Homo sapiens: one gene and its partner. Each later gene encodes a partner of the first gene's protein in a complex. Each region holds a gene or a part of one and is shown in the gene's direction. Other genes may lie near its edges.

What was found. The genes of interacting proteins can lie anywhere in the genome.
Region 2: the proteins of NSUN4 (region 1) and MTERF4 are in contact, whole or in part, in a crystal structure (PDB 4FP9), measured with the Homo sapiens proteins. Residues at the interface, in NP_950245.2 of Homo sapiens: Pro61, Ser62, Arg64, Val65, Leu68, Ser69, Glu70, Arg136, Gly137, Asp138, Ile139, Arg141, Asn367, Leu368, Met369; in NP_872307.2 of Homo sapiens: Tyr267, Glu269, Arg270, Leu271, Gly272, Arg273, Glu311, Glu312, Val315, Phe316, Lys318, Leu319, Arg322, Glu323, Glu326.

Annotation. Positions count from the first base shown.
Region 1 is NC_000001.11:46,336,272-46,343,808, forward strand, and holds the start of NSUN4 (5-cytosine rRNA methyltransferase NSUN4), read left to right. Parts: upstream 1-4,535; 5' UTR 4,536-4,555; coding exon 4,556-4,648; intron 4,649-4,906; exon of another isoform or gene 4,907-7,537. UniProt on the Homo sapiens protein: Mitochondrial RNA cytosine C(5)-methyltransferase that methylates cytosine to 5-methylcytosine (m5C) in various RNAs, such as rRNAs, mRNAs and some long non-coding RNAs (lncRNAs).
Region 2 is NC_000002.12:241,099,269-241,107,136, reverse strand, and holds the start of MTERF4 (transcription termination factor 4, mitochondrial), read left to right. Parts: upstream 1-4,849; 5' UTR 4,850-4,863; coding exon 4,864-4,884; intron 4,885-7,242; coding exon 7,243-7,741; intron 7,742-7,868. Other genes in the region: PASK (PAS domain-containing serine/threonine-protein kinase), read left to right, coding at 414-571. UniProt on the Homo sapiens protein: Regulator of mitochondrial ribosome biogenesis and translation. Binds to mitochondrial ribosomal RNAs 16S, 12S and 7S and targets NSUN4 RNA methyltransferase to the mitochondrial large ribosomal subunit (39S).

The DNA of each region.
Region 1 (7,537 bases):
ATGCCCGTAATCCCAGCTGCTCGGGAGGCTGAGGCAGGAGAATTGCTTGAACCTGGGAGGCGGAGGTTGTGATGAGCCAAGATGTGCCATTGCACTCCAGCCTGGGCAACAAGAAGGAAACTCCGTCACAAAAAAAAAAAAAAAAAAAAGGCCAGGCGCAGTGGCTCATGCCTGTAATCCCAGCACTTTGGGAGGCCGAGGCAGGCGGATCACCTGAGGTCAGGAGATCAACACCATCCTGGCTAACATGGTGAAACCCTGTCTCTACTAAAAAATATAAAAAATTAGCCAGGCGTGGTGGTGGGCACCTGTAGTCCCAGCTACTTGGGAGGCTGAGGCAGGAGAATGGTGTGAACCCAGGAGGTGGAGCTTGCAGCGAGCCGAGATGGCACCACTGCACTCCAGCCTGGGCGACAGAGCGAGACTCCTCAAAAAAAGAAAAAAAAAAAAGAAATTGAGAAGTTGGTTAATAGGTACAAAAATATGGTTAGAGAGAAGGAATAAATTCTAGTATTTGATAGTAAAGTAGGGAAATTATAATTATAAATAATTTAGTGTATATTTTAAAATATCTAGAAGAATTATAATGATCCCAACACAAAGATAAATGTTTGTGTTTGAGGTGATGGATATCCCAATCCCTTCATAATTGATCATTATACATCATATACATGTATCAAAATATCACATGTACTCCCAAAATATGTACAATTATTATATATCAATAAAAATCACCAGCCTGACTTTGGGAGGCCGAGGCGGGCGGATCACGAGGTCAGGAGATCGAGACCATCCTGGCTAACACGGTGAAACCCCGTCTCTACTAAAAATACAAAAAATTAGCCGGGCGAGGTGGCGGGCGCCTGTAGTCCCAGCTACTCGGGAGGCTGAGGCAGGAGAATGGCGTGAACCCCCGGGGGCGGAGCCTGCAGTGAGCCGAGATTGCGCCACTGCACTCCAGCCTGGGCGACAGCGAGACTCCGTCTCAAAAAAAAAAAAAAAAAAAAAAAAAAAAAAAAAATCACCAGCCTGGCCAACATGGTGAAACCCTGTCTCTACTAAAAATACAAAAGAAAAAAAAATTAGCCAGGTGCGGTGGCGGGTGCCTGTAATCCTAGCTACTCAGGAGGCTGAGGCAGGAGAATCGCTTGAACCTGGGAGGCGGAGGTTGCAGTGAGCCGAGATCATGCCATTGCACTCCAGCCTGGGCAACAAGAAGGAAACTCCAACTCAAAAAAAGAAAAAATTAAAAAAAAAAAAGAAAATAGAAGTGAAGGGACATTTCCTAAATTCATTTTATGAGGCCAGCATTACCCTGATATCAGAATCAAACAAAGACTTTATAAGAAGAAAAAACTGCAGGCAAATACGACTCATTAACTCAGACCCAAGAATCCCAACAATCTGGGAGGCCGGAGCGGGCGGATCACGAGGTCAGGAGATCGAGACAATCCTGGCTAACACAGTGAAACCCCATCTCTACTAAAAATACAAAAAATTAGCCGGGCGCGGTGGCGGGCGCCTGTAGTCCCAGCTACTCGGGAGGCTGAGGCAGGAGAATGGCGTGAACCCGGGAGGCGGAGCTTGCAGTGAGCAGAAATAGCGCCACTGCACTCCGGCCTGGGTGAAAGAGCAAGGCTCCGTCTCAAAAAAAAAAAAAAACACACACACACACACAAAAAAGAATCCCAACAATATTTAAAAAGAATACTGTATCATCGGCTGGGCGCAGTGGCTCGTACCTGTAATCGCAGCACTTTGGGAGGCCAAGGTGGGTGGATCACCTGAGGTCAGGAGTTCAAGACCAGATTGGCCAACATGGCAAAACCCTGACTCTACTAAAAATATAAAAATTAGCTGGGCGTGGTGGCCTGCACCTGTAGTCTCAGCTACTCAGGAGGCTGAGGCAGAAGAATCGCTTGAACCTGGGAGGCGTGGGTTGCAGTGAGCCAAGATTGTGCCACTGCACTGCAGCCTGGGTGACAGAGCAAGACTCTGTCTAAAAGAAAAAAAATACTGTATTTGTATCATGAATTGATGTGTTTTTTACAAGAATGCAAAGTTGGTTCATATTGAAAAGTCAGTCAACATGATGCATCATAGTAATGGAATAAAGAAGTAAAACTGGCTGGGCGCAGGGGCTCACACCTAATCACAGCACTTTGGGAGGTGGGCGGATCACCTGAGATCAGGAGTTCGAGACCAGCCTGGCCAACACGGTGAAACCCCATCTCTACTAAAAATACAAAAATTAGCCAGGCGTGGTGGTGCATGCCTGTGATAACAGCTACTCAGGAGGCTGAGGCAGAATAATTGCTTGAACCTAGGAGGCGGAGGTTGCAGTGAGCCGAGATGGCACCACTGCACTCCAGCCTGGTGACAGAGCGAAACTCCGTCAAAAAGAAAAAAAAAAAAAAGGAGTAAAACTGTATGATCATCTTAACAGAAAAAAAAAAAAAACTTAAGGAAAATCAACAACTATCATGATTTTTTAAAATCTCAGCAAACTAGGAACAGAAGGGAACTTTCTAAACCTAAGAAAGGACATCTATACACATGCAGGTACACGCACACACAAAACTACAGCTAACATCATATATAATGGTGAAGTACTAAATGCTTTCTTCTTAAGAATGGGAACAAGGCAAGGATGCCTACCATCACCACTTACATTCAACTGTGTACTGGAAGTCCTAGCCAGTGGAATAAAGCAAAGAAAAAAAAAAGGGATATAGATAGAAAAGAAAGAAGTTAAAGTGTCTTTATTTACAAAAGACATGACCATATGCATAGAAAACCTGAACAGATTTCCAAAAAGTTACCAAAAGTAATAATTGAGTTTAGGAAGGTCTCAGGATACAAGGTCAACAGAAAAAATCAATTATATTTTAATATACTAGAATTTTTCTTTTGAGACAGAGTCTCACTCTGTTGCCCAGCCTGGAGTGCAGTGGCATGATCTCAGCTCACTGCAACCTCTGCCTCCTGGTTTCAAGTTATTCTCCTGCCTCGGCCTCCCAAGTAGCTGGGATTACAGGCATGAGCCACCATGCCCAACTAATTTTTGTATTTTTAGTAGAGACTGGGTTTCACCACGTTGGCCTGGCTGGTCTCCAACTCCTGACCTCAGGTGATCCACCCACCTCGGCCTCCCAAGTGCTAGGATTACAGGAATGAGCCACAGTGCCGGCCAGCCTTTTTCTTGAAAAATGAACAAAGTGAGCCTGTCACTTCAAGGAAAATAACTGACAGTATTTGTTGCCAATAAGAAAATTCCAAAATTCCACATTCAAATGCCAAATAAGAAAAAGCTTTCGGCTGGGGGCAGCGTGAGCCACCGCGCCCGGCCAAGTTTTGTATTATTTTTCTTAACTATGTCTTCTCAAATTGCGGAAGCGTTAGGCCCCACAACATTTGACATCACCAGTAGGGATCCAGTGGAGAGGAGGGACATGATCAGAAACTGTGTTTTTAAATGATCATTCAACAGCCAATTATCAGGGTGGGTAGGAGTGAGGCAGGGAGATCAAAAGGCAGGGAGATTGGCTGGGATTACAGGCATTGTTACCAGAAAGGGGTCCCGATCCGGACCCCAAGAGAGGTTCATGGATCTCGCACAAGAAAGAATTCAGGGCGAGTCCGCAATGCAAAGTGAGAGCAAGTTTATTAAAGTACAAGAATAAAAGAATGGATAGTCCATAGATAGAGCAGCTCCAAGGGCTGCTTGCCCATTTTTATGGTTATTTCTTGATGGTACGCTAAACAAGGGGTGGGTTATTCACGCCTCCACTTTTTTTTTTTTTTTTTTTTTTTTTGAGACGGAGTCTCGCTTTGTCGCCCAGGCTGGAGTGCAGTGGCGCGATCTGGGCTCACTGCAAGCTCCGCCTCCCGGGTTCACGCCATCCCTCAGCTTCCCGAGTAGCTGGGACTGCAGGCGCCAGCAACCTCGCCCGGCTAATTTTTTGTATTTTTGGTAGAGACGGGGTTTCACCGTGTTAGCCAGGAGGGTCTCGATCTCCTGACCTCGTGATCTGCTCGCCTCGGCCTCCCAAAGTGCTGGGATTACAGGCGTGAGCCACCACGCCCGGCCAGGTCCCGAAACTTAAGCTTCATTTGTTTCACTGCAAATCTGCTTCTGCCTACAAGCCTGGTCTCATTTTCCTCTACCTAAGGATCTTCCTCCATGCAATTTCGGCCTAGGAGGCCCTTCCCGCCCCTTTTCGCCTAGCTAACTCTTTCGGTACTCAACCACCAACTCCTAATCCTCCCTGGTCCCCCAAGTGGGCTAGGGGCTTCTTGGGAGTCCCTCGCACTGCTCTAAGCATCCAGGCAGAGTCATTATTCCGGGTGCCAGGTTGCTCTTTTTCCAGCAGCCTTCAGGGGACTCCTGGCTGGGCGGAGTCTGTAGAGGCGCGCGGAGTCCTGGGAGAGCGTCAGATGTATTTCCTTTCCCTTTTTTCGCTCGTGTCCCGCCGGGTGGCGCTCACCACCTCCCCGGAACACGCGAGTCTCCTGTCGCGGTTCCGGTCGGAATTACCCCGTGGAGCACGCCGATATGGCTGCGCTGACACTGAGGGGTGTCCGGGAGCTGCTGAAGCGTGTGGACCTCGCGACGGTCCCGCGGAGACATCGATATAAGAAGAAATGGGTAAGGTCCGGCTGGGGGCGCAGGAGGGAAAAGTGAGGGTGGAAACTTCTCCAGTCTTTCCGTTTCCCGGCCCTCTAGAACGCCTAGCGTCTTTCCCAAGCACTCCACGGAACGTCCTTAGGCACCTCCCTCTCTCGTCTTTTCCGTCACCGCCTCTGTCCGCACTCTATGTCCCGAGCGTTAGTGTCTTCCACTTGTTACGTCTGCAGTCTCCTGACTCCGCCCAAGTTGCGTCATCACCTTCGCCTTCATTCTTTTAGTGATGTCACTGTCTCTTGTTCCCCAGCTGTGTCCACCTACCTTTCTGTCCCCCACTCCCCCTTTTACTTCCCTCCCTCCCCTCCCCCTTTCCCTTGCCCATTCTTCCCCCACATGACTTCTCCTTTCCTCATTGATTTTCCAGCCCGGTCGCCCTCACCCCTCGGAAAATACCATAGCGACCTTGCCTGCACTCCTGGGTCTCCGCCGCCTTGCAGGAAAGGATTCAGCCCCTTCCTCAACCTCGAGCTGCCTCTGGCGACCGGGCAAGGTTACAGCGACCACCCTGTCCATACTGCCGGCCCAAACCCTGGCAAAAGGTGCAACGAATCCTCTCATCCTCTGGACTCTCCTTGCTTCTCCAGAGACCCTTTTTCTTGCCTCACTGGAAGCCCTGGAATTTCTTCTATGACCGGCACGCCCCCCTGCCCACCCCAGCCGATTCCCTCGCCACCTCCACCATCTCTTCCACCCCCACAACCTTCCTCGCACTCAGGGAGATGGTCTTTTGAGTCCTCTTCCCCACTCCTGGAAAGGACCTACTGCCGCTAGCCCTGCCACTCGGGTTCCCCACTCTCCAGCCCTTATTTTGAGCAGTTCAGCATTCCGGGGTCACCCCCTCTCTGTCAGCGGACACCTTATTGCAGCTGGATGAGTCCCTCCAGAATGCGGCGTCCCTGTCTTCAAGGCACGTACTGTGACCAGCACACTAATCTCTGTTACTCTAGCGGATGGCCTTCAGCTTTTGGAACCAGCCCGGCAACCTCCTTTCCCCTTGCTCATCAGTCCCCGGGAACGAGCCCAGTGACCTCCCCTCAGCTCACTCATGTACCCTTGGAAACTGGACCCATGATTTCGCCTCCTCCTACACATAGGACCCCGGGAACTTGCCTCACGATTTCACCTCCTCTTGCTCGCCGGCCGGTGGAAACTAGTCCTATGGCCTCCCCAACCCTTTCTCACAGAGTTTTGGAAACTGGGCTGATGATCTCTCTGCCCTCTCACTGGTTCTCAGGGAGAAGTTATAATGACCCCCTTCTCTCCCCAGCATCTTCCCCACCTACTGGCAGCTTTTACCATGGCAGCCTTAAGCCTCTAGACTCTTGTGAACCCAAACCACAGCTTGACCTGCCCCTTGAGAAAAATTGTTGTGGCTTCCCACTCTCTTCTCAGGCAGGCATGCCTGGCTCTCCCAGCTCACCTCAGGAGGGCTCTTATCATTACTCCCATCTTTCCTCAGAGGCCTACATACCTACCCCTGGGAGTCCTTGCTATGCCATCTGCCTGTGCCCCGGGAGTACTGATTCTCCTTGCTCACCCCAGTCCCAGGCTCCCAGGAAGGCTTGCATTGAGTCCCTTCTCTCCTGGGAGGCAACTGGGAACTCTTACCTCATCCTAACCCCGGACACCACAACTTCTGGTCCCCCCTGTTCCCAGGAACCATCTCGTCCCCATGGTCCTCATTCTGTCCTTTCCTTCCCTTCACCCCTGGGCAACCAGTTTATATCTCCACCCCAGTCACTTCCCCGCAGAAGCTATAATGAACCCCCTCTTCCCACTCCAGTTTCCCCCCAACCGAAGTCCCCTAAGTCCCCAGAGTTAAGACAGTCACATACTCCCCACAAATGTCTCTCCCTAGTCAACACTCCCCAGCACACCCCTTCTGGCCAGCCCAAGCCCGCTAAGGCCCACACCTGTCCCCCACCTCCCTCCTGCCTCTCTGGTCCTTCTTGTATGCAGCCATACATCACAACTCCTTCAAATTCCAGCCCCAAAGAACTTCCCCCAGGGACTACCTTACTGACTGTGGTCCCTAGAGCTCTCAAAAGTGTTATCCCCACTTCTTTTCCCCTCTGCCTTCCTTGTGATCCTGTCTCGGCCAATAGTTATGCTCAGAGCAGCCGCCATGGACCCTCCATAGGGCCCCCCTGCAATACCCATATATGCTCTGTGGTTCCCTCCACCCCCCATCCCTGCCCACTGTCTGGCTCCCTCAATCATTCGACAGGCCCCCCTCCCATTGTGCCCCTGTGTGACACCTATAGCACTCCCAGGGGCCCACCCCAACCTCGTTGTCAGCCTGTGATGCCTCCTTGTTCTACCCACATCTATTCTTTTATCCCTTTGAGAACACCCTTTGATCCTCAAAGTTTACCCATTGTCCCCCGAGTCCGGGCCTACCCTGATACTGTCCCCTGTGGCCTCCATATCTACCCTGTGGCCTCTCAAGGCCCTTGCAAAGAGCCTCTGCAGATCCCCTACAGCTGCCCTTTGCCTTCATCCAAGGATTCCAGCTGTAGCACCAATCCCAGCTGTAGTTCGACTATTATTAGCAAATGCCAGAGTAGTGACAGCGAGAGCAGGAGTTCCCACCAAAGCCAAAGCCGGAGCCAAAGCAAGAGTCCCCATGATGGCAGAAGTCAGAGCTGGAGCAAGAGGCATCATCTGAGCAGAAGTCCAAGTCAGAAAAGCAGTCCCTATCCTAGCAGAAGCTGGGGCCGGAGCAGTAATCCTCAACAAAACACAAGTCAGGGCCAGAGTGAGAGTCCCCAACTTAGCATAAATGAGCACCAGGGTGAGAGTCCCCAAATTAGCAGAGGTCAGGGCAAGAGCAAGAGTCTATGATGGCAA
Region 2 (7,868 bases), on another chromosome or scaffold:
TTGGACCTTGGAGGGTGGGCAGGTGTCATGGGAGCTCCTGGCAGAAGGGGTCGGAACCCTCAAAGATGGTTTGAGGAATGCAGCTGGTGATGGTCTGACTGGGCCGAAGGGGAGGATGAGGCCACAGATGCTGAGAGTGATTCTCTAGCAGCCGGCGGGGCCGAGGGCTCTTCAGACAAGGCTCTGGCCACAGAGCCAAAACCACTGCTCAGAGCATTTGGACCAAGCTGCGGTTGATGGCCCTGGGCTTAGATCCCCACCTTGGCAGGATCTGTACTTCCGGGACATTGCCAGTTGGATTTCTGAGGGCCTCACCTTAGGCTTTTGTTCTAGGACTTCTTCAAGTGAGAAGCAAAGTATTTTAGAACCTTAAGTTGTTAGCACGTGATACAGTTACCTTCTTGTTTCTTCAGAAAGTGGAGTTCTGTCCGCTGCGAGCCTGGAGATGGGGAACAGGAGCCTGAGTGATGTGGCCCAGGCTCAGGAGCTTTGTGGGGGCCCCGTTCCAGGCGAGGCTCCTAATGGCCAAGGCTGTTTGCATCCCGGGGATCCCCGTCTGCTGACCAGCTAAACACCAATTTCTTCCTGCTTTTCTCCACTTGGTTTGGAAAATCACACAGTTTTCAGGCTCCATCTGTTTGGAGAAAATACATTCTGAAGCATCCCCAATTCACCTTCTAAAAACTCATGTGCAGGTTTGATAAACACCAGAACAGAAGACAGTGATGCTGTATTATTTTAGATTTATTACATAGATTTGGAATTCACTTTTTTCATGACCTAGAAAAAAACATTCCAGTGTTCAACTGTTTTATATTATTAAAGGGCTTTTAATTTGTGAACTTCTGAAGGCATGAGTGTTTTCTCTTTCTACTTTTGTATATGTGCATGTTTTGTTTCCTCTGACTTGGTATATGCTCATCTGAGTGACGGATATGTGAAATTTGTAGAACTGGTTAGTCAAATGGCCAGACTATTTCATTAATTTATTTCCTCAAATGCTTTTCAAATTAAAGCACCTTTGTTAGTAAACAGTTATCCTGACTTGGATGTTGTGAACTGTTCCCGTGTGCTAAGTGTGAGAAATACCTGGTTTCCTCATTTTTCCATGTGTGCACCCCACTTGCCACAGTTGGAGAGAAGTCTAGCCTTGGCCATTCTGGGGTTCCTTTTACAAGCAGGCCCTGCCAGGGGTGGGCCTAGGGCTCTGAAGCTTGCTCCATCTGGTAAGACGGGGGAGGGTGGCTTCCTCAGGGACCTCCCTTCTGTCTGTAGCAAGACTCTGCTGTCAAACACGTGGCTGGCTCACTGCCAGCAGTCCCCAAATATCCCATGGCCAGCCAGCTCCCACCTCTGTCCACATGAGGGGCTTCCTGGCCCAGCCCCCACCTCTGGTCTGTGTGAGGGGCTCCAGCCCTGTATTCCTCCGAGCTGCTCAGGTTCCAGGGTGTTTGTCAGATACTCAACTGGCTGCTTCCCTCCCTTAGACTCCAGTCCATCCCCCTCAGACAGACTTGGCTAGGTCAAGTACTTAGGATTGTTTTATTTCATGTCTGTGTTAGAGAGGAGGGAATAGCTAGAGGTGAGAGCAGAACCTTTCATTTTTTTCCCCTGCTGAGACAGTAGGAAAAAAACCAAAAACCTAAACCCCTACCCTTTTCCCACATGTCATCACTTGCAGACGGTTTTTCCACATTCTGAGACTCCTGCCCAGAACCCTCTGGAAGCTGCCTGGGAGCCAGGCTGCCTCCTGCGTGGTTCTGAGCTATTTCTAGTGGTTATTTAGGAGGCACTCAACTGTTTTGGGATGATCAGAGTTAATTTTAGTCCCATCTAGTAGGATATGGGCTATTGCCATCCCTTTCTTCAGAAAGTGCTGCCTGAGCCTCGCTGCCACCACAAGTGACTGATGGAGTTGGTGGGGGAGGACCCTCCTCTATCAGGGACATTCAAGGTACAAGGGTTTTACAGGTGTGTATTAAAGTCAGTGATGTTCACTCTTCAGAATTCAAAGAGTTTTCTGATGTTTTAAGAACCCCTACCTTGTAGTGTTTATGGTGCTTATAACACAGAGGATGTTATAGAATGGTGTTTGTTTGTTTGTTTATTTATTTAGAGACAGAGTCTTATACTGTCGCCTGGGCTGGAGTGCAATGGTGCGATCTCAGCTCACTGCAACCTCCGCCTCCCAGGTTCAAGCAATTCTGCCTCAGCCTCCCAAGTAGCTGGGATTACAGGTGCCCACCACCACGCCTGGCTAAATTTTTGTATTTTTAGTAGAGACGAGGTTTCACTATGTTGGCCAGGCTGGTCTCAAACTCCTGACCTCATGATCCGCCCGCCTCGGCCTCCCAAAATGTTGGGATTACAGGCATGAGCCACTGCGTTCGGCCACAATGGTGTTTGCAGACAGGTGTTTAATGGGTTGAGAATGCATAGTCTGAGCTTTCTAAGAACTGTTACTTCTTTATAAGAAAAAATAATTAAAGCTCATCTGACTTCATGGCAGTGGAAGGTCTGGTATTTTGCAAACGTTCTTTGCAGAAAGAACCCAGAGAGGAAAGTTCTGAGGCTGAGGCTGACAATTTTTCCACTCCATTTTTTTTTTTTTTTTTAAGATGGAATCTTGCTCTGTCACCCAGGCTGGAGTGCAATGGTGCAATCTCGGCTCACTGCAACCTCCGTTCCCTGGGTTCAAGCAATTCTCCTGCCTCAGCCTCCCGAGTAGCTGGGATTACAAGTGTGCGTTATCACGTTACCTGGCTAATTTTTGTATTTTTAGTAGAGGCAGGGTTTCACTATATTGGCCAGGCTGGTCTCGAACTCCTGACCTCAGGTGATCCACCCATCTCAGCCTCTCAAAGTGCTGGGATTACAAGCATGAGCCACCGTGCCCAACCCACTGCATATTTTTAAAGTATGGTTCGAGAGAGCAAAGTTTTCACACAAGACTGAAGGTGATGTCAAATTTTTTTTTTTTTTTTTTGAGAAGTACTTTCGCTTTTGTTGCCCAGGCTGCAGTACAATGGCGTGATCTTGGCTCACTGCAACCTCCGCCTCCCAGGTTCAAGTGATTCTCCTGCCTCAGCCTCCTGAGTAGCTGACACTACAGGTGCCCACCACCATGCCTGGCTAATTTTTGTATTTTTAGTAGAGATGGGGTTTCACCATGTTTTCCAGGCTGGTCTCAAACCCCTGACCTCAGGTGATCTGCCCACCTCGGCCTCCCAAAGTGCTGGGATTACAGGCGTGAGCCACCACACCCGGGCTCATGTCAATTTTTCATAGTAATCCCCATGTCCCAGCTGTCATTTTATTTCTAGAGCTAGACAAACTGTTCAGGTTCCTTGATTCTTTCCAGGGAGTTGGGGTGGCTCATGGGATTTTCTTAGGCTTTTGGTGTAGCATTAACACAATTTATTGTGAGATGTTGACAGTTGAGTATTTTGAGAAGAAAATTACATTATAAAAAACAACAAAGGCAACCAATTTTTTTTTTCCTTTTGTTTTTTGAGACAAGGTCTTGCTCTGTTACGCAGGCTGGAGTGCAGTGGTGCAATCATGGCTCACTGCAGCCTCAACCTCCTGGACTCAAGTGATCCTCCCACTTCAGGCTCCTGAGTAGCTGGGACTACAGGTGCACGCCACTACTCCCGGCTAATTTTTTATTTTTTGTAGAGACAGGATTTTCCTATGTTGCTCAGGTTGGTCTTGAACTCCTGAGCCCAGGCAATCCCCCCCACCTCAGCCTCTCACAGTGCTGGGATTACAGGCGTGGGCCACTGCACTCTGCCAAAGCAACCAATTCTTTAGTTTCTACACGGATTAGAACCTTCCTTTTCTTTGACATAATCCTTTTGTCAAAAGACAGTTTTACATAAATTGTTTGGCACCCCACTCCATGCCTGGCGCAAAGCAGATATGTAAATGTGTGCCCATGCAAGAATCAAATCCTTTATGTCAGTCCAGAATGAAGTAGATAAAACAAGAAATGCTTATAAATTAAGGCTTTGGTGGCAGGATTTAGGCAGCTGAGAAAGCACACCTTTTTATTCTTCACAAGCATCACCTTGTGAAAGATGCCTACGCTCTTAGGTCGAGAGAGGAAATTTAAGAATGAATACACATTGGGCTAAAACTTTACTATATTTCATCCTAAGAGGGAACCAGACCTCGAAGTTGGGAAGGCTCTTGCTTATAAAGGGAAATGTGCCGTAATTCCTGTCATTTTACTTGGGTCTTTTAAAAACGGCAAATTCTCATCTTCCACTGGCTGAGAGTAAAAAGAAAGAAAAGCGGTAAAGACTTCTTTTTGTGCGTAGGTGGCCCCGGTGTTCACGCTGAATACAGATTTTTACACAATAAAATCTTAAATATCTCTACATGGAACGGAATCCATTTTTCCTGCCTCGGGAAGGATTTCTGCGCTCTCGGGTGAAGTTCCCGAAGCAAGGAACCAGTTCCCCTCTACCTGTACTCTTGAGAGGAATTCTCAGGTCATCTGAAACACAAGTATGGGCCAGGACGACCCATTCGTTCACGCGGCCCAGAGCTCTGCGAAACGGGACACGGCAGTGCAACGGGAACAACCGGACACCGAGGCCCCCGAAGGCTGAGGCCGCGGCAGAGGCGGCGGCACGGTGACGGGCGCGACTCCGGCCTTCCGGCTTTCTAAGGGGCGGCCCCGGGACACCTGAGCCCCGCGGGGCCGTGAACGCTCAGCACAGCTCCGGGCCGGAATCACGATCCACCACACCGCGCTGGCGCTGGGAACGGCGTCGGTGACGGACCGGGGGCCGGAAGTGAAGGACGGGGGAGGACCGCTGCTTCCGGCGCCGTAACTGCTGCCATCTTCTCCGCGCTATGGCTGCGTTCGGCCGTCAGGTAAGCTCGAGCTGGGCGCGCGGGCTTCTCCGGGTCGCAGGCGGGCGGGCAGCGACGCAGAGGAACCGCGGCCGCCGAGTGTTTCACGGCCAGGTCGTGGAGCCCTCCCGGAGGTCCGTGCACGCTGACCTGGTTTTGGCATCCTGGACCCGTGGCTCTGCTCAATTATTGTGGGATATAGAGTTGACATTTTTTTTTTTTGAGACAAAGTCTCGCTCTGTCTCCAGGCTGGAGTGCAATGGCGCGATCTCGGCTCACTGCAACCTCCGCCTCCCGGGTTCAAGCAATTCTACTGCTTCAGCCTCCCAAGTAGCTGGGATTACAGGCGCCCGCCACCATGCCTGGCTAATTTTTGTATTTTTAGTAGAGACGGGGTTTCACCGTGTTGGCCAGTCTGGTCTGTAACTTCTGGCCTCAGGTGATCCACCCGCCTCGAACTCCCAAAGTGCTGGGATTACAGGCGTGAGCCACCGCGCCCGGCCTGAGTTGACTGTTGAACAAGAGTTTGAACTTCACAAGGAAGATAACATGTACTTTTCATTAAGAGGAAGCGGAATCAGCATAGAGGTCTTTAGGCTTGAGCCCAGTTCCACGGGCCGCGCCCGCTGACCCCAGCGACTGCCAGGTGTTCCTGGCGGAGGGAGCATCTGGACAGGGGAGGCTGGAGAGCAGCCAGAGCTTGGGCTTGGCAGGGTGGCCCCAGGGCGACAATCGATGACGCTGGAGAAGGGGTTGGGACCGATGTGAAGGTTTTAGAGCAGGGGTTCCCCAACCCCCGGTACCGTCCCTTGCCTATTAGGAACCAGGCTGCACAGCAGGAGGTGAGCGGCAAGTGAGCCAGCCAGACTGTATTTACAGCCGCTCCCTTCGCTGGCATTACCGCCTGAGCTCCGCCTCCTGTCAGACCAGCCGCCTTAGATTCTCACTGGAGCGCGAACCCTATTGTGAACTGCGCCTTTGAGGGGTCCAGGTTGCGCTCCTTATGAGAATCTGATGCCCGATGATCTGTCACTGTTTCCCATCAACCCCAGATGGCACCTCCTGGTTGTAGGAAAACAAGCTCAGGGCTCCCAGTGATTCTACATTATGGTGAGTTGTATAATTATTTCATCTTATATTACAACGTGAAAATAACAGAAATAAAGTGCACAACAAATGTAATATGCTTGAATCATCCTGAAACCCCTCACCAGTCTGTGGAAAAATTGTCTTCCATGAAGCCAGTCCCTGGTGCCAAAAACGTTGAAGACTGCTGGCTTAGAGTGCCTGGATGATTTGTGCATAGTTTGTTAAGCACCAGCCTGAACCACTGAAGACTTTTGAGGTCAACTGGAATTGTGTATGCAAGTTGACTAATTACTGTGACCCTTGAACAACACAGGGGTTAGGGGCACCAGACCGCCCCCACACCAGTTGAAAATCAGTGTATAACGTTTGACTCCTCCAAAACTCAACTACTAATAGCCTACTCATGACTGGAAGCCTTACCGACAACATAAACAGTTAACACATATCTTGTATATATATATATTGCATTCTGTATTCTTAAAGTAAGCTAGAGAAAAGAAAACGTTATTCAGAAAATCATAAGGGCAAAACCCCGTCTCTACAAAAAATACAAAAATTAGCAGGGTGTAGTGTGCACCTGTAGTCCCAGCTACTCAGAAGGCTGAGGTGGGAGGATTACCTCAGCCTGGGGAAGTCAAGGCTGCAGTGAGCCATGATTGCACCACTGCACTCCAGCCTGGGCAACAGAGTGAGACCCCCGTCTCAAAAAACAAAAAGAAAATCCTAAGAGAAAATGTATTTACTATTCATTAAGAGGAAGTAGATCCTCATAAGGTCTTTAGGCTGAAGAGGAGGTGAAGGAGAGTTTGGTCTTGGTGTCTCAAGGGTGGCAGAGGCGGAAGAAAATCCACATATAAGTGGATCCAAGCAGTTCAAACCCTTGTTGTTCAAGGGCCAACTCTGTATCCCACAAGATTCTTCTCGTGGAATGAATTTAAGAACATGAATCTGGAAAGTAGTCTGAGGTCCAGACTTTTCTGGCACACATGACCAGGTGGCCTAGAAATAGTTTTTCCCTCTTCCTCCATGTCCCTGCTCCCATCCTTAAAGCTGCAAAAGCTAACAATATTGTACCTGCTTGACTCCCATCTCTGTGGCCTTGAAATACCCTGTTCTTTGTGAGCTTCCTTCTCTGTAGGCTTAAGTTCAGATAGGATTTTGCAGATTGCTTATAAAAATTGTATGTTTGTGTGGAACCAAGGCAGTAAGTACTCTGGCTCAGAAGTCTTATGGTGTCCATTACACTGGAATAGTGAGGAATTAATTGTCTTTTGGTCCTGTGTCTTACAGGTCCTTGATTGGCACCGCCTGATCCCCCTCACCTGGGCCTGTATGGCTAGGCAGACTCCTCATCTTGGAGAACAGAGAAGGACGACAGCTTCTTTGTTGCGCAAACTGACTACAGCCTCCAATGGAGGGGTCATTGAGGAGTTATCTTGTGTTAGATCCAATAACTATGTGCAGGAACCAGAGTGCAGGAGGAATCTTGTTCAGTGCCTCCTTGAGAAGCAGGGGACTCCTGTGGTACAAGGGTCCTTGGAGCTAGAGAGGGTCATGAGTTCCCTCCTGGACATGGGTTTCAGCAATGCCCATATTAATGAATTGCTCAGTGTACGGCGAGGTGCCAGTCTTCAACAGTTGCTGGACATCATTTCAGAATTTATTCTCTTGGGTCTGAATCCAGAGCCTGTGTGTGTGGTCTTGAAGAAAAGTCCCCAGTTATTGAAACTGCCTATTATGCAAATGAGGAAGCGCTCCAGTTACCTGCAAAAGCTTGGGCTTGGAGAAGGTACAAGAAGTTGCAGATTTTGGCTGGGTGCGGTGGCTCATGCCTGTAATCCCAGATCTTTGGGAGGCCGAGGCAGGCAGATCACTTGAGGTCAGGGGTTCAAGATCAGCCTGGCCAACATGGTGAA